Linked DNA regions of Homo sapiens: region 2 is linked to region 1. Evidence: fine-mapped expression QTL. Tissue or cell type: whole blood. Region 1 holds a variant in brackets; the other region holds the start of a gene. All regions are shown on one strand. Distances are between the middles of the regions.

Region 1 (8,104 bases):
CTCTCACGGGAGTGAGACGCTTATAGTGAAGTCAATGAGGGCCAGGAAAGAGGTCGAGGGGAGGCAGCATGAAGGGGTCTGAGGGTGTGAGAGGAGGGGTGGAAGGAGGGCAAGCGAACTCGTTGGGGGTCTGGTGCCTGGACATGGGTGGAGAGGGCCGCAGTGGAGGTTTTCTCAACATGCACCCTTCTGTCATCTCCGTGTTCAGGGGACGCTGGGCATGCCCAGTGCTGGCCTGAGGAAAGCCCCTCCTCATCACAAGGCCAGTTACCTTTTTCTGTGTGTTCTATGATCTGACGAATTGCTTTCTTCAGGCTGTTGGCTCTCAGCATGAGCTGTTCTCGAGGCCGGAATATCTGCGGCCGGGCCGGGCAAGCTGATGCCACCAAGCGGTCTCCGGTGGAACCGCAGATGCTGCCCGACCCATCTCCATCTTCAGCCTCCTCGGCAATGGTGGGGGGCGGGTTGGGCAGAGAGGACGAGGCCTGGGACTCATCGTCCAAGGTCTTGAGAAGGGAATCCAGCTTCTCTTTCAGGACAGAGCACTGAACAAGGAAAGGAAATGGCATGCAGAGCTGAGGCAGGAGAACAGGGTCTGCAGGCAGGGAACCTCAGGCCATTTCACCCAGACTTCCTAGAACTCGATCAAAAGGAAAATCCTAACTCTCCACGCCTAAGTAACAAAAAGACCAGAGGCTACTCCCTTTGCAAATCCCCACCTTTCCCGCCCTGGCAGGTGGGAAATTGGGGAAATTGGCTGTCCACAACCAACCATACTGATTGCGAGCTGAGTCTTAGTCTGCATAGAAATGCAACTTTGTAACTTCACCTTAGCCTCTGATTGGTTGCTTTTTGCAACCAATCAGATGTTTGCACAGGAGTGTGACCTTTGTAACCACTTCAGCCTCTGGTTGGCTGCTTTCTGCCACCAATCAGACTGAATGCAAGCTACCACTTCATTTACATGAGGTGAGCATGAAGTGGCCAATGGGATACTTCTAGGGGGTATTTGGACCCAAGAAGATTCTGTGTCTGGACCCTTGAGCCGCTGCTCGGGCAGCTCCCACAGTGTGGAGTGTACTTTCATTTTCAATAAATCCCTGCCTTCGTTCTTTGTTGCTTCATTCTTGTCTTCCTTTACTGTGCGTTTTGTCTAATTCTTTGTTCAAATCACCAAGAACCTGGACAACCTGCAGTCACGGCCCTCTGCTGGTGACAGAGCAAGCTTCTCGCTGCCTCAATGCCCCTCCCACCCAGGGCACGGGAACAGACCTTCTTGGCCATGACCTCTGACTCCTCCGAGCTCTCGGTCGTCTTCTCATAGGCCTTCCCCACCCGTGCCACGAAGTCCTTCACCGTCTCACAGAGCACTCTGTGGGGAGAAAAACAGAAAGACCCTTCTAGAGAGGCAGCTCCAGGCTGGGGGCCAGGGCACCATGCCCTCCCCAGGGCCACCAGGCACTCACTTGGCCGAGGAGATGACCACCGAGTGCTGGTCCGAGGTGAGGATTTTAGAAAGGTGGGCTGCAACCGAGTCTTCATAGAAGAGAATCTGCTGTACCTGCAATCACCCCAAATGGCCAGGACTGTTGGTCTCTGTGACAGCAAGCTCCATGACAGTCCCAGTGACTCTGTCAGCCACTTCCTTGCCAGCACAAGCTGGGAAAGATGAGTCTCTCCTAACAGACACTGTCTGACCCAGCCAAGCCTCAACTCACTTCTAACGCTAATCTGGGACTCACCTAGTGCTAGGTGAGAGATTTTAAAAGCTTCGTCAAGCTGCAGGCAAACTGCAAATGAATCTCCTTCAGTCTGCGATCCCAGCACGGCCTGTGCTAGGAGCTTCCGTCCTGACCCCTACTCATCCTGACAGCGGCATGCTGGCGGGTCGGCTCCAGGTTTGGGTCCGTTTGCAGCAGAGGCTGTTTCCACCTGGCTGTGAGCCCCATCTGGACACACACTCCTGCCCCCACCATCTGTTCTGGCTGTCAGAAGGGCAGCCCTATCCCTGTGGGATCCCTGCTGTCCTTAGGACCCAGCCCCAGGGTCGCAAACTTCACTACTGGCCAGACAGCGAATATTCTGGGCTTCCCCCACACACTCTTCCTCTCAAAAAAAAAATTTTTTTTTAAAAAAAGGAAAAATAAAAAATGTACAAACCAGTCTTCGCTTGCAAGGCCGTGGGCCCAGGCACATCTGGCCTGCAGGCCTTGTTTGCTGACCGTTGCCCTAGCCCCTGACAAAAGCTCACCTCTTTGTACTACCCCACCCAGCACTGCACCAGCACAAAATAGAAACTAAAGACAAAGTCTGTTCTCTGAGGGAAACTGTAGGAGCGTTAAACACAACAGTAACAATCACCAAATGAAAAGAACCACCAGCTGGACTAGAGGAGCCTGAGCGAAGGGCAGCTGCAGACGCCACAGAGAGGTGGGACGGGGCAGGAGCCGGGGGGCTAGGGGAGAGCCGCGGCAGAGCCGGCTAGAGCATTCCAGGCACGTGGGCACCGCGGCGGGGGAGGGAACGGGCGCGCACCGTTTGGGGCTCACTGCGCAGCTGAGGAGATGCACGGACAGGGTGGAAAGGCCATTAGGAGGACCACCCCACCACCCGGCAGGGCCTATGACAACCCCAGGAAGCCCCTAGAGGGTCACAAAGCCCAAAAGGCCCCTGCCAAGGGGAGTGAGAATCCTCTCAGCCATGGGTTCACCCTGCGCCTCCGCAGGCCTGACTGTGACACCCCAACACCAAAGGGGAGGCGTCTCTGCAAGGGAGGTGATGCAAACCGCTGACAGGACAGTTCTGATCACATCAGCATGCGAGCAGGGTGTGAAGAACAGGCCAGCAATACCTCGGAATCCTCGCTGAAGTCTTCGGTGACGGTAGAGGAGGAGGCCTGCCGGGGGAGCTTGGCCTCGTATGCCATGACGCTCCACCTGCACACACAAGGTCAGCTGCACAGGCGGCAAGACGTGCAGGCCCACAAGGGTGAACCCTGCGCCGTCCGCTTTCACGGCTGGCAGCCTTGATCTTTACACCGTTTCTGACTTCATTTTTAGGCCCTTGGTCTTGACTCTGTCCCATAACTTGGCTGAGAACAAATGTCTGCACTCCACAACTAACGGCAGTACAGCTCCATAAAGAGAGGAAGGTCTCCCATAAATGGCTACCTTGAGATAAGATGCTGCTTCTGGGAGAAATGGATTTACCCTCCTCAAGAGAGCTGCAAATGGCTCAGCCAGCTGGCCCAGTGAGATGAGCATTTCACAGGCCCCAAGGCACACAGAGGAGGCCTGAAATGGTGGGGGCATTGCAAAACCACAACTGTGCTCAGAACTCCAGGCTTCTGGGAGCAACTAGGAAGGCTAGGAGGCATCTCATCAGCACCCCATGTGCCACAGGCATGTGGTCAGTGAGTGCCAAGTGTGTCACTCGGGACAACAGTACCTTACTCAGGGAAGGTGTCACAGTGGCTTTAGGCACTAGAGGATAATTTCCCAAAACTTCTTCTGGGAACAGAATATGAGAAAATGAAACTGTTCAAGTAAACGACAAGGAGCATTCTTCCGATGGGTATTAGATCTCGGGCTGAAGCAGCCAAAGATGGCACAGCTGCCTTCTCCACGGCCCTGACACACTCAGGCTTGGCCTTCTGGGAAGACTGGATCATCCTAGGGCATGGCTGGTTCTTAACCTGTTTTGTTTTTATCCTTGTCATAATCTGACCAAATATCAAAGACTATCCGAATATATACTCAGGTCAAATCTTTACAAATAATTTCAGAGGGCCCATGTTTTCCACAGACCCCAGGTTAAGAACACCTGGTCAAAGGGACCTGTCTCTCAAAGTCTCCTCATACGGCACCGGAGCACATCCCCACTCACCTGTCCAGCATCTTGGTGCTGGCTCTCTCCAACTTCTCCAAGATCTGGGGGAGCTGGGTGTCGTCATCGCAGGCTGAGCCCCAGCCCAGTACTCGGGCCAAGTCGTTCCCTGTGCCGAGCGGCAGCACTCCCAGCTGACACTAAGGAAACATGGGGGACGATG[C/T]GCAGGCAAACACCTGGGGGCAGGGGCCACTTCCCAGCCCGCAGCCCTCCTTGTCCCCCACCGTGAGGGTTACGTTAGCAATGTGGGGACGTGACCTAAAACCACGCAGCTTACACATTACAGGCAGAGCCCACTGGAGGGGACAGATGGCATTTTCCTTGGCAATGAGACAGAAACATGACTGCCCTTGAGATAAGATGCTGCTTCTGGGAGAAATGGATGAGCCACAGGTCCATCTCTCAGCTGTCATCACATCTTGATGGTCAGCCCCTCACACCCTCTCTGATCTGTCTCCCAAATCCCTCTGCTTCCCATTTTCACCACCGTGACCACAGCCCCAAGGAATCACTCTGATGCCTCGCCACCCGTCCCTCCATCCACTACAGCATCTCACTCACTAATGCCAAATTCTTCTTCCAAAAACATCACTAGTATCACTTCTCTCCTCTAAATCCTATCCAAAAAAGGTGCCAGGACCATCCTCAGTCTGGAGGCTACCCTGGAGCCTTGCCAGAGCTCAGCCTCTGCCCGCCTGCCTGCTGTTCCAGGAAGAGACCTCATGCATTACTCAGGCCTCACCCTCCACCTGGATTCCCATTTCAGAGCTCCAATGAGATCCCACTACACCATTCCATTGCTTAGGAGGCCTCTTAAAATGCCCACTGCCCAGAGCTCACCAGCCTTTGACTCTGACAACAGAGTGACCAGGGCCATGAAGGCTGCGGTGGAGTGTGTGGGGAGGCGTTACTGTCCTTGAGGCAGGAAACCTGCCGTGGTCCAGCCTACAGCACCGTACAGCCCTCTGCCCACCAGGTGGAGGTGACCATGCTTGAGGCCCTGCCGCCTGTGGGGACAGCAAACACCAGGGAAGGTCCTGCCTCACCAAGGGGACATTTGGCAGTAGGGGAGGCAGGAGCGAGCAGGCCAGGACACCGGAGCCGACACACTAGATGGAGAGAACCCAGTGCTGAAGGGTGCCCAGAGGGTCTGAGGACTCCGCGAGGGCTTCCTGGAGCCTTAAAGGAAAAGGAGAGCAGCGCACAGCAGGCATGGATGGTGCTCCAGGCAGGGAGACACCACTGGGAGGGGGCAAGGCAGAGCTCAGTGAAGAGGAGGACAGCGAGGAAACAGGAGGCAGACAGGCAGAGAAGCAAGCAGGAGGCAAAGCTGGGACTCTTAAAGGTCTGGACTTTTCCCAGAAGCATCGTGCTTGGGGGGTGCACAGGCAGAAATGCCCCGGGAAAGGTCGCCTGGGTGAGCTGCAGATGGACAGAGGCCAGGGTACTGTGGGTGGCAGGACTGAGGACACAATTAGTGAGAAACAGGCAGGAGGAAGAGACGGACGAACCAAGAACAACTGTCCGATTTCCTGGCTCAGACATCTAGATGGATGATGTTTTCAGACTCGAAGGAAAGGAACGCAGGGTGGGGGCTGAACGTGGTGTAGTGTTGGAAACTCGAGGCACTAGGAGACATCCAGAGAGGCCCAAGGCTCAGCTATCAATTGAGGCGCCCCCAGGAGAGAGACGACAGCAGAAGCCCTGCAAGTCGCTGAGCGTTCAAAAGCGAAGGAGGAGAGGCCCCAGCAAGGCTCTGAGGACACAGCGTTAAGGGAAGGGTAAGGAGGGAGAGGCCACCATGGAGCAGTAGCAGCCAGGAAGACAAGAAACCCCGAGGCGGCAGGGGCCCAGCGAAGGCATGGCCACCACATCAGGTGTCAAAGAGACGCAGGGGAGAGAAATGTGTGCTGACCTTGGCTGAACGTATGAAAATCAGCCACAAGGTTCCACTGTCTTCCTAACTAGTGACAGTGAACTTGCAAGTAATACACAAAATCAAAAATTAGAGTAGTCTATGCTAATCCACCAGCAGGCGGCACCACTTCTCCTCCTGAGCCACTGGCCTCACGGCCCGAGCTGTCAAATCCACCCACCTGGAAATACTACCAAGTGAGCAGAGCTGGGTAGGCACCACAGAATCACTGAAAAATACATCCACGTCACACAGAAGACTGAATTTTTTAAAAATGGGGCCATAATAAACATAAGAAAATACAGATGCAAATCTTAATCTTGGGGTGTAGGCAGCTGCAAATATGACAGACGTTGACAAAAATCATGAAAGAAAAGACCACCCCCCAAAAAGGATGTTGAACTGACAAACGACAAACCGGGAAAAAAATATCTGCAGTGACAGATAAGAAGTTAATGTAACAATAATCCTCACACACCCATTTTTAAAGGAAAAAAAGGTGAATACTCAAAGAGAAAATGAGGCAAAAAAAAATATGAACAGGTGATTTATTTAAAACTTCATAACCAACTGAGGAGGCGTTCAACTTCACCAGGAATTAAAGAAGTAAAGGTCAGACATTTTTTGGTCTACTTAGCTGGACAAAAACTAAAGAGATGAACAGCTTGGATGGTGCACGGGGAAAGACAGCTTTAAAGGCATCAGGCATGGAAGCTGGCACAGCCCTGAGGAAAGGCAGTTTGTCAGCACATTTCAATACTTAAGCTTGGGTGCGCTCAGAGAGGAGACCACTGGGAAGTGATCTCCGTGCTCACACATGGAGGTGAGCTGGCCCTGGGCTCCCGGGTGTGTCCAGTGGAAAACGACACACAGATGCCTACTTACAGACACAGGCACAAGGTGTCTGCAACATCTTAATTAGTGGTTTTTTAAAAGCAGTAACAGGCCGGGCGCGGTGGCTCATGCCTGTAATCCCAGCACTTTGGGAGGCCAAGGTGGGCGGATCATGAGGTCAAGAGATCGAGACCATCCTGGCCAACATGGAGAAACCCTGTCTCTACTAAAAATACAAAAATTAGCTGGGCGTGGTAGCGTGCGCCTGTAATCCCAGCTATTTAGGAGGCTGAGGCAGGAGAATCACTTGAACCGGGGAGGCAGAGGTTGTAGTGAGCCGAGATCGCACCACTGCACTCCAGCCCAGCAACAGAGCAAGACTCCACCTCAAAAAAACAAAAACAAAAACAACAACAACAAAAGCAGTAACAGAATAGCCCGTTTAAATTACAAGTGCACTGTGCATTGTATGTACTGTGATCAAGAGAGGTCAGAGACAGCAAAATGTTGGCACTGGCTGATCACCTGGGGAGGCCGTGGCTTGGTGTGGAAATTAAATGACTATATGAACATTTTTATACACAATCAGGAAAATCTATTTTTATTTTAATACAAAAAACTAAGTCCAATGAACCATGACTCTGACTTGAGAAACTCAAGTATACTGCCGTCCCCTTCTCACAAGCAAGAGGCCTCAAGACAAAAATTACCCAGTAAAGCAACAGCCCCACCCAGCCCTGCTCCCCATGTGGGTCCTTTGTGGGCAATTCTTTTCGTAGCTCCCTTCAGGTCCCCCTCATACATCATGGCCAGAGCCCCCGGGCCTCCACAATGCCAGGGGGTGGCCCAGGCTCTCCCCTCTCTGCCCTGGCCACCAAACTGCACACTCCCCAAAACCACCAATGGTTTCTGGCCTGAGAACAGGTGCTCCGAGATGAACAGGAGCTGAGACTGCATGATTTCCCTCTAACCTCCGCACCCTCTCTGCTCCTGGCTGGGCTCCCTCCTGTCCTGGTACCTGTTTATGAAGGTTGAGGCTGTCGATTTCGGAGAGGACCCAGCCAACACTTCCATCCCCGCCACAAACCAGAATCCGGAATGTGTCAAACTTCTGGAATAACCGTAAGCTGCAGAGAAAAGAGAAAGGCCGTGAAATGACATCCATTCCACAGGACAAATGACAGGCTTGTCAGTACGGGGCTGAGGGGCCACCTGTGCTCCTCATGGCTGACCTGCACCAGAGGCAGAGCACGCACAGGCCCTGCCACGTGACACCAGCCGCCTCCACTCAGGGTCCACTTTGTCAAAGGGACGACAGCAGCACTGGGGTCCAGCCAACTGCTCCCACCAGCCACGCCCCACCCAGCGACAAGACCACTCAGCTTGGTGAGCCACTGCACGCTCTGCAGACATCACAGGCAAAGTGGTGGGCCAAAACTGCATCCCCTGCCAGGCTCACGGGCACAGCCT
Region 2 (8,104 bases), 90 kb after region 1:
GTCTGAAGTGACTTCATCTGACACCAAAGTTTAGACTTTGAAATCCGACAATAAAATGGCATTAAAAACCTTTTACATTACTTCATCCCTACTAGGATGGCTAGTATCAAAAGAGAGATAATAACAGTTACTGACAAGGATGTGGAAAAATTGGAACCCTCCTCATACACAGCTGGTGGGAATGTAAAATGTTACGGCAGCTTTTTAGCTGGAAAATAGTCCGGTAGTATTACCATATGGCCCAGCACTTCCACTCCTAGGTGTATAGCCAAGATAAATGAAAACCTATGTCCACACAAAAACATGTGCATGAATGTTCACAGCAGCATTATCCAGAATAGCCAAAAAGTAGAAATAACCCAAATGTCCATCAACTGATAAATGGATAAATAAAATACAGTGTGCCTGTAGAATGGAATATTACCCAGCAACAGAAAGAAATGAAGTACCGATACATGCCATGACATGGATGAACCTTAAAAATATTATGCTAAGTTAAAGAAGCCAGACCACATATTGTATGATTCCATTTATGTAAAATGACCAGAATCAGCAAACACAGAGACAGAAAGTAGATTCTTGTTGCCTATGGTTGAGGGAGTTGAGAGGAAACGGGGTGATGAAAATGTTCTAAAATTGACTGTGGTGATGGTTGCAAAACAGCGAATATACTAACAACCACTGAACTGTATCCCATGTGAATTATATCTCATAAAACTGCGGTGCATTTTTTTAAGTTTTTTACAACTTAAACCCTTTACCTAATTTTTACTAGTCTTCATTTCACAATGGAAAAAATGCTTTGTTTAAATTTAAAATCAGGAATCCAAGCACTTTCATGCTCATATCCAAAAAATGTTAACTTTCTAGAAACTTTTAAATAAATTAAACTCTTTTAACTGATAGCTTTGCAGAATTACACGGTTCTTCACTGAAATTTCAAAATACCTTATAATGTGCTGGTGAATGTGCTGGTCGGAGTGTTAGCTCCATTTTCTTTCTTTCCATTCTAGCTATGCAGTTCTACAGAGTCATTACTGTGTACTGTAGTCAGGAAATACAAATGAAGTAATGTCTTTGCTGTGGACAGCTTCAACTCTAAAGAGCTCGAACATATTAAAAAATCAGACATGCATGAAATGCTAAACTGATAAATGGCCATCACAAATCTGCACACATCAAATTTTCAATATGCTAAAGATCTATAACCTGAAGAATTATTTGAAGTTTGGAGAGGCTTCTCTTTACATGTGTGCCATAAGGTCTTGTTTTTCAAAGTCTGGTCCATGGACCAGCAGCATCAGCATCTTCTGGGAGCTTGTTAGAAATGCATATTCTGCCAGGTGCATTGGCTCAAGCTTATAATCCCAGCACTTTGGGAGGCTGAGGTGGGTGTATTACTTGAGCTCAGGAGTTTGAGACCAGCCTGGGGAACATGGGGAAACTCCATCTCTACAACAAAATACAAAAATTAGCCAGCATGGTGGCATTTGCCTGTAGTCCCAGCTACTTGGGAGGCTGAGGCAGGAAAATCACTTAAGCCCAGGAGGCAAAGGTTGCCGTAGCTGAGATCGCACCACTGCACTCCAGCCTGGGTGACAAAGTGAGACCTTGTCTCAAAAAAAAAAAAAAAAAAGAAAGAAAGAAAGAAAAAGAAATGCACATTCTAAGGCCCCACCCACCCTAGACCTACTCAACCATAATCATCATTTTAACAGGATCCCTAGGAGATGTGTCTGCACATTAAAATTTGAGGAGCACTGCCCTAAGACATTCTCTTTTGTTTTTCTCTTCATTAAGACAGCTCTGACTTGCACTAGACTAATATTTTAAAAGCCTGACATACATACAGTTCTGGTCCTGGGCCAGCTTGTCCTCAGATCCATTCTTTGTCCTTCTGCTCCAGTCCAAGTTGTGGAGGAGGTGACCCCAGCAAGGCCAGGGTTCCCAGGCAGGAGGGGAACAGTACATCCGCAGCAGCAGCTGTGCCCTTGCAAGGCTCCAGCCACTGCCAGATGGACCCCTTGTGACCCCAGTTTTTGGTGGGTGACAGCTGTCCCTGGAGTCTGAAATGCCATCTCCTTCCTTCACCCTCCAACTTAGGGGTGGCAGCAGTTTCCTGCTTGTTGCCTCATCTCCGGCTTGCCTCATTGCAGCCTGCATTCTCAGTTCTCACATCACCTGTGTGACCACTCCCCTAGATTACATTCCTTCTGTTCCAAATACTTAAGGTGAGTTCTGTTTTTCTTTTTAGACTCAGACTGCTACCCCATACCATTTTTGATGTTTCTATTATGTACCATAGATACCAGAGGAATTTTGTGAATGGCTTATCTGCTGGAAAAAAAAAAAATGGAGCTATTACATACAGTCAACCTCGCATTCCCACATTCTGACAATCTCTTAACAACTCAGAAGAAAAATCAGCCTTAAGCTATCTGTACAGCAGATGTGACTGTATTCAGAAACTCTAAGTCCTCGGGGTGTATTTTTAACAGTCTACCCATCACTCCTCCTCAACCAGAACAGCTGGTATAGCAGCTATTGTTTTAGGAGAAAAAAGAAGGAAAGCAAAAACACCTCCTAACCAACAAAATTCTAAACACTGGAATCTCCCAGGAATCAAATCTCTCTCAACACAATCTTGATCTTAATCAACCTTGTAAATCACATGATCTACCCCACACTGGTCAGTACCTTGCCTGGGCAACAGGAGAAAGCAACTCCTATCAGTATCATTTAGGGCTATGTGGAGATCTTCCCAAAAGCACATCTGATCCATCACCCCCATACTTTGAACAATCCTCTGTGGCCACCTCTTGCCCAAGGCCAAAAAGCAAACCCCTCAAAGGACCACCCCTTCGAAATTCAGCCCTAACCAACCCTTCCAACTAATAAGTCTAATCAACGTGATCCACCTCTGGCCCAACTTCTGATCATTTCGCAGTTGTGCCTAAAGCTCTAGACGCAAGGTTCAAATATGTAGAAGGCCATTTCTTACCCACTTAGCCTGGTGAATTCTTTATCCCTCAAGATCTCACCTTAAAGGAAACCACTCCTGCCTCCCCAGGGCAGGTCTCTGCCCCGAGTTTCCGCGGCACTTACAATGTTGTCATGTCAGGTGCACAGGCGTCCATCTCCCAACTAGACTGAGAATCCCTAGGTGTAGAAACTGCCTTCCATCTTACGGTCCTGACCATGGTTCCAACACACATCCACATTTACGACCTGTGACACCCTGGGCAAGTCATTTAACCTTGATTCTATTTCTATTCCAATTCCAAAAGACGGAGATGATAGCATCCAACTTATTGGGTTCTCACCAGTACTAATAAACTAACCATGTCAAGTGCTGTAAAGCTAACCCAAGAAAGTGCCTGGCACATAGAAGGCTTATTAAAGAATTGTTATTTGCTATTGCTATCATTATCATCACTACTGCTACTGTTATACCCGGAACAAAGCAGGTGTTCGGTACCTATTTGCTGAATAACTGGAGCACTTCACAACAAACCTGTTTGTAACATGTTAGGACCTCAGGTTCCCCCATCGCAGGTATCAAAGGCTGACAGAAGAGAAGGCTCCCACGGTGAAGGGAACGGCTGAACCTAATCCGCCCCGGAGGAAAAGCGCACTGCAGCAGGAGGAGAAAGTCCGTGCCAACCGGATCTGCCAGAGCTGCCCCAGGGACCCAGCCTGCTCGCAGCCACCTGTCCAGCCACCTGCCTGAGGAAGCAGTGTTCTAACCGGGCGGGCTCACCTGGAGCAAAAACCGTAAGCTGTTTTCAATAGGAAGCACAATGGGAAAACAAACGGTGCAACTTTCCTCCTGCAAAAAGGACGTGCGTCTTTATCTAACATTTAGCGTCAGGAGTTCTCCGTGGAGAGTTGGGTGCCAAGCGGGTGCGCGGTCCCGGCTTTGCTGAGAGAGACGGTCACTGAACGCGCATCCCTTCCTTCCCTTTTGGGATGAAGGGGTGAAGGGGTGATCCCTCGCACCCGGGTCCGAGCGGACTTCTGAGGGCACCACAGGGAAGTCTGCAGGGCACTCGCGGGACACCACCCGACCGCTCCTGAGAAACGTGCAGAACCGGGGTTTGGGGACCGCGGACGCCCGCGGGGCGCAGCCGGGAGCCCCCGCGTGGGACCCGCTCGGTGGCACGAGCGCAGTCCCCTGCATCTAGGCCTCAGTTTCCTCCGGGTCCTCGCGGCCCAACTCGGCGCGCGCCCCCCGCCCAGCGCGCGGCGCCCGGGGCGCCCACCTGCGCGCCCCCCGCCCGGCCCCACAGCCGCCCGCCGTCCGTCGGGGGCCGCGCGCTCCGCCCGGGGCGCCGGCCCGTTACAGCGGCGGGGCACGCTCGACAGGGGCGGTGACGCCCGCGGGACCCCGGGCCGGGCCGAGCCGGGCCTGGGCGGCCGCTCGGGCAGGGCCACGGGCCTCGGCCGGGGCTGCCGCGGCGTGAGGGGCGCGCGCCCGGGCCGCCGCGCCGCGGGCTCACCTTCTGTCGGATCTGACCCGACGTGGACACCTTGCGGATGAGCTTCTGTGGGGAGCCGGGCTCCGCCTCGGGCTCGCTGTCGGACGACTCCTCGGGCGGCGGCGGCGGAGGCGGTTGCGGGGGACCCGGCGGAGGGGCGCCCGCCGCCGCCGCCATGCTGCCGGGCCAGCGCGCGCACCGCGGGCGGGGGCGGGGCGGGGCCGGCGGGAGGGGCGGGGCCGAGGGCGGGCCGGGCCGGGGGCGGTGGGGGCGGCCTCCCGCCTCTCCCCGCCGCGCCCCCTGCCGGCCATGCGCGCAGCTGCAGACGGCGCCGCGCGGCCCCTCCCCGCCCCCACCTGAAGCGTCCCGGGCCCCCCGCCCACCTCTCCGGGCCGTGGCTTCTGTGTGTTATTTCTGGAACGCCGTTTGTGTTCTTGTTTCTATATTCACTTCTTAAAACATCTCTACTCTTCCGCATCAGAATGTAGGTAACCTCAGGCAGGCTGGGGCTGTGTCTGTCCTGCCCAGCCTTGTGTGGCCGAGTTTGGGGCGAGCTCGAATGCGCGCGCGCGTGCTGGAAAGAGACCCCGGTACTGGGACGGGCCTCGGGACGCCAGAGCTGGGATGCACCGCTCCATCTGGGAAGGCTTCCTGGAGAAAACGGTTCTTAAGGAGAGATGGAAAATGTGAGCAGGAGTTGTGACTAGAGAGGGAACCATGTTCTAGGCAGAGACCAGATTTGTGCAAAGGCCTGGAGGCAAGAAAGAACGAGTGTTGGGCGAAGACGGGGGAAGAAAGGGAAGCTGGTGCTTAGAGCAAGGAAAATGGCATTAAGATATGAGCCTCGGGGCGGGCAGGTCGAAGCGGGCTTTGGAAACCAGATAAGGGGATGGAAGGCAGCAGGAAGCCCTTGAGGGATTTAACCCTGGGCGGGGCTGGGTCACCACGCTGGGGCCTGTGATCCGGGCTTTGAAGTTATCAGGGCAGGTGGACGCCCTGGATTACCGAGGGGCTGAGAGATAGAGACGTGGACTGAGATCCAGGTGGGGAGTGACCAGCGACTGGAGGGAGACAGAGGTGACCAGAACGAGTCCCATGTTTCCCAGGGGGGCTGCTGGATGGTGGGCGGGTGGGGTCCAGCGCTGCTCTGGGCAGAAGAGGAGGAAGCGAAGCTGGAGATGAGATCAGCTAAGTTTTTGGTGCCATCCAGGTGGAGCAGGGCTTGGTGCCACCCAGAGGAAATGCTGTCCATCTGTCTGCCCTGCTCTGAGGGGCAAATCAGTAAGGGACTGCCCAGGTGTGCCCTCTCCCTGTCAAAGGGCTGCCGCTAGAGACCTCGCCTGCCAATAGGCATTCGCTGGCCGCGCCGCCCTGGGCAGTGACCTGGGGCTGCAGAGTGGCATCTGGCATGGGGACACGGCCAGGGGCATGGGCTCACGGCCAGGACAGAGGAGGACAAGGCCTAAGGCAGGAACAGTCCGGGACAGGCCGAAGGCCCCATGGTGCCCCAGGGTACTATAGCCACTAGCCACATGTGGCTACTTAAATTTCAATTAGTTAGAATTCAGCATTCCGTTCCTCAGCCACAGGAGCCACATTTCAGGGACTCAGTAGCCGCATGTGGCTTAGCAGCTGCCACGCTGGATAGCACAAATATAAAACACTTCCCCCGTCCCCCCAGAAAGTTCTGCAGCACAGTCGCATGCTGAACTGTGTCCTCCCGTAATTCATATGTTGAAGTCCTAACCCCCAGTACCTCAGCATGTGACTGCATTTGGAGTTAAGGTTTTTAAAAAGGTAATGAAGTTAAAATGAGGTCACAGGGGTGATCCCTAATCCGGTATGACTGGCGTCCTCATAAAAAGAGGAGATGAGGACACAGACACACACAGAGGGCAGCCCATGTGAAGACACAGGGAGAAGATGGCATCTACAAGCCAAGGAGAAAGGCCTCCGATGGAACTCCCCCTGCCGACACCGTGATCTCGCACTTCCAGCCACCAGAACCGAGAGCGTCAATTCCTGTGGTGGAAGCCGCCCGGCCTATGGTGCAGTGCTCTGGCAGCCCTAGGGAACTCATGCAGGCACAAAGGGCTCCAGCCTCCCCACAGGGTTGGGACTTTTCTATCAATTAACTACATGTGGAGTGATACACAGAGGCAAAACCCTGGAGGAGTGTGCAAGGCGGAGGAGGGGCGGGGACGCACAGGGGAAGAAACAGTTCATTCCTTCATTCCGCGGGGGAGCCGGGTGACCTGAGCAGGGTTTGGGATTGGAATGGAGAGGTCAGATATGAAGGGAGTTTCCCAGGAAAACGCAAAAACGGGGAGACTACCCCTACCAGGTGAGCAGAGCGGGTGACGAGGGATTTTGGTGAAGCCGGTAGCAAGGCGGGTGCGGGAGGCAGGGAGGTGAGCAGCGGCGCCAGGATGCAGAGTAGCCTCCCGGCCCTGCTCTGAGGCAAGGACTTCAGTCCCGTGGGCACTGGAGCTGGCAAGGGGGTTTGGGAAAGCAGAGGAACTCATGTGTCTGGGCAGAGAATGATCCATAGGAGAGAAGACTAGAAATAGGGAGGCCATTAAAATGCTGTTGCCGGCCGGGCGCGGTGGCTCACGCCTGTAATCCCAGCACTTTGGGAGGCTGAGGCAGGCGGATCACGAGGTCAGGAGATCGAGACCATCCTGGCTAACACGGTGAAACCACGTCTCTACTAAAAATACAAAAAATTAGCCTGGCGTGGTGGCGGGCGCTTGTAGTTCCAGCTACTCGGGAGGCTGAGGCAGGAGAATCACTTGAACCCCGGAGACAGAGGTTGCAGTGAGCCGAGATTGTGTCACTGCACTCCAGCCTGGGCAACAGAGCGAGACTCCGTCTCAAAAATAATAATAATAATAATAATAATAATAAATGCTGTTGCCTACACCTGTTAGGAGCTCAGGGGACATCCAGGCCCCAGAACTCATCATTTTAGAGTCAAGGAGGCAAGGGCATGAACGTGACGGTTAAGAAGCAGAAACCGTGGCTGGAGAGGAGGAAATCTGCAATTACCAGAAAGTACTGAGATTGTCACAGACAAGAGGAGCCAAGGAGACATGATGACTAAACGTCACGTGGGTTCCTAGATGGGATCCCAGAACAGAAAAAGGACATTAGGTAAAAGCTGAGGACATCAGAATTAAGTATGGGGCTTTAGTTTAATAATAATGCATCAATATTGATTCCCGGGTAGGAGGAGGGTGAGGATTGAAGAACTACCTATCGGGGATTATTGTGCTGATTACTTGGGTGACAAAAGTATCTATCTGTACACCAAACCGCCATGACATGCAATTTACCCATGTAAAAAACCTGCACATGTACCCCCTGGACCTAAAATAAAAGTTGGAAAGAAATAAGTATATTTTACTGGAAACAACATTTGAGTCACTCAGTGTGGCAAATGTACCCTACTCATGTAAGGGTTAATAATAGGGGGTTTTGGGTGTGGGGGACCTCAGTATAACATCTTTGCAACTTTTCTGTAGATCTAAAACTACTCAAAATAAAAAGTGTATTTTAAAAAAAGAGGATTAGGCTTGGTAAGAATTATATTCTTAAAGCAAAGAAAACTGGCATAAATGTTCTTT

Evidence for each region. PIP is the estimated chance that this variant, and not a neighbour inherited with it, causes the effect.
Region 2: it holds the start of DGKD, and the variant in region 1 is fine-mapped to the expression of DGKD in whole blood (TOPMed, PIP 0.99).

The regions. Positions count from the first base shown.
Region 1 is chr2:233,441,544-233,449,647 of GRCh38, reverse strand. DGKD (diacylglycerol kinase delta) reads right to left here. Exons shown (of 30, transcript NM_152879.3): 10 at 7,653-7,761; 11 at 3,886-4,025; 12 at 2,852-2,936; 13 at 1,467-1,561; 14 at 1,273-1,372; 15 at 272-545. Among named protein-coding and RNA genes, the nearest start is that of DGKD, 91 kb to the right of the region's middle. RefSeq lists enhancers at 5,890-5,939, 5,960-6,069. The variant C/T (reference allele first, on the strand shown) is at 4,049.
Region 2 is chr2:233,351,070-233,359,173 of GRCh38, reverse strand. DGKD (diacylglycerol kinase delta) reads right to left here and starts at 4,680. Exons shown (of 30, transcript NM_152879.3): 1 at 4,500-4,680. The coding sequence starts at 4,655. RefSeq lists a silencer at 4,491-4,730 and enhancers at 4,981-5,030, 5,171-5,230.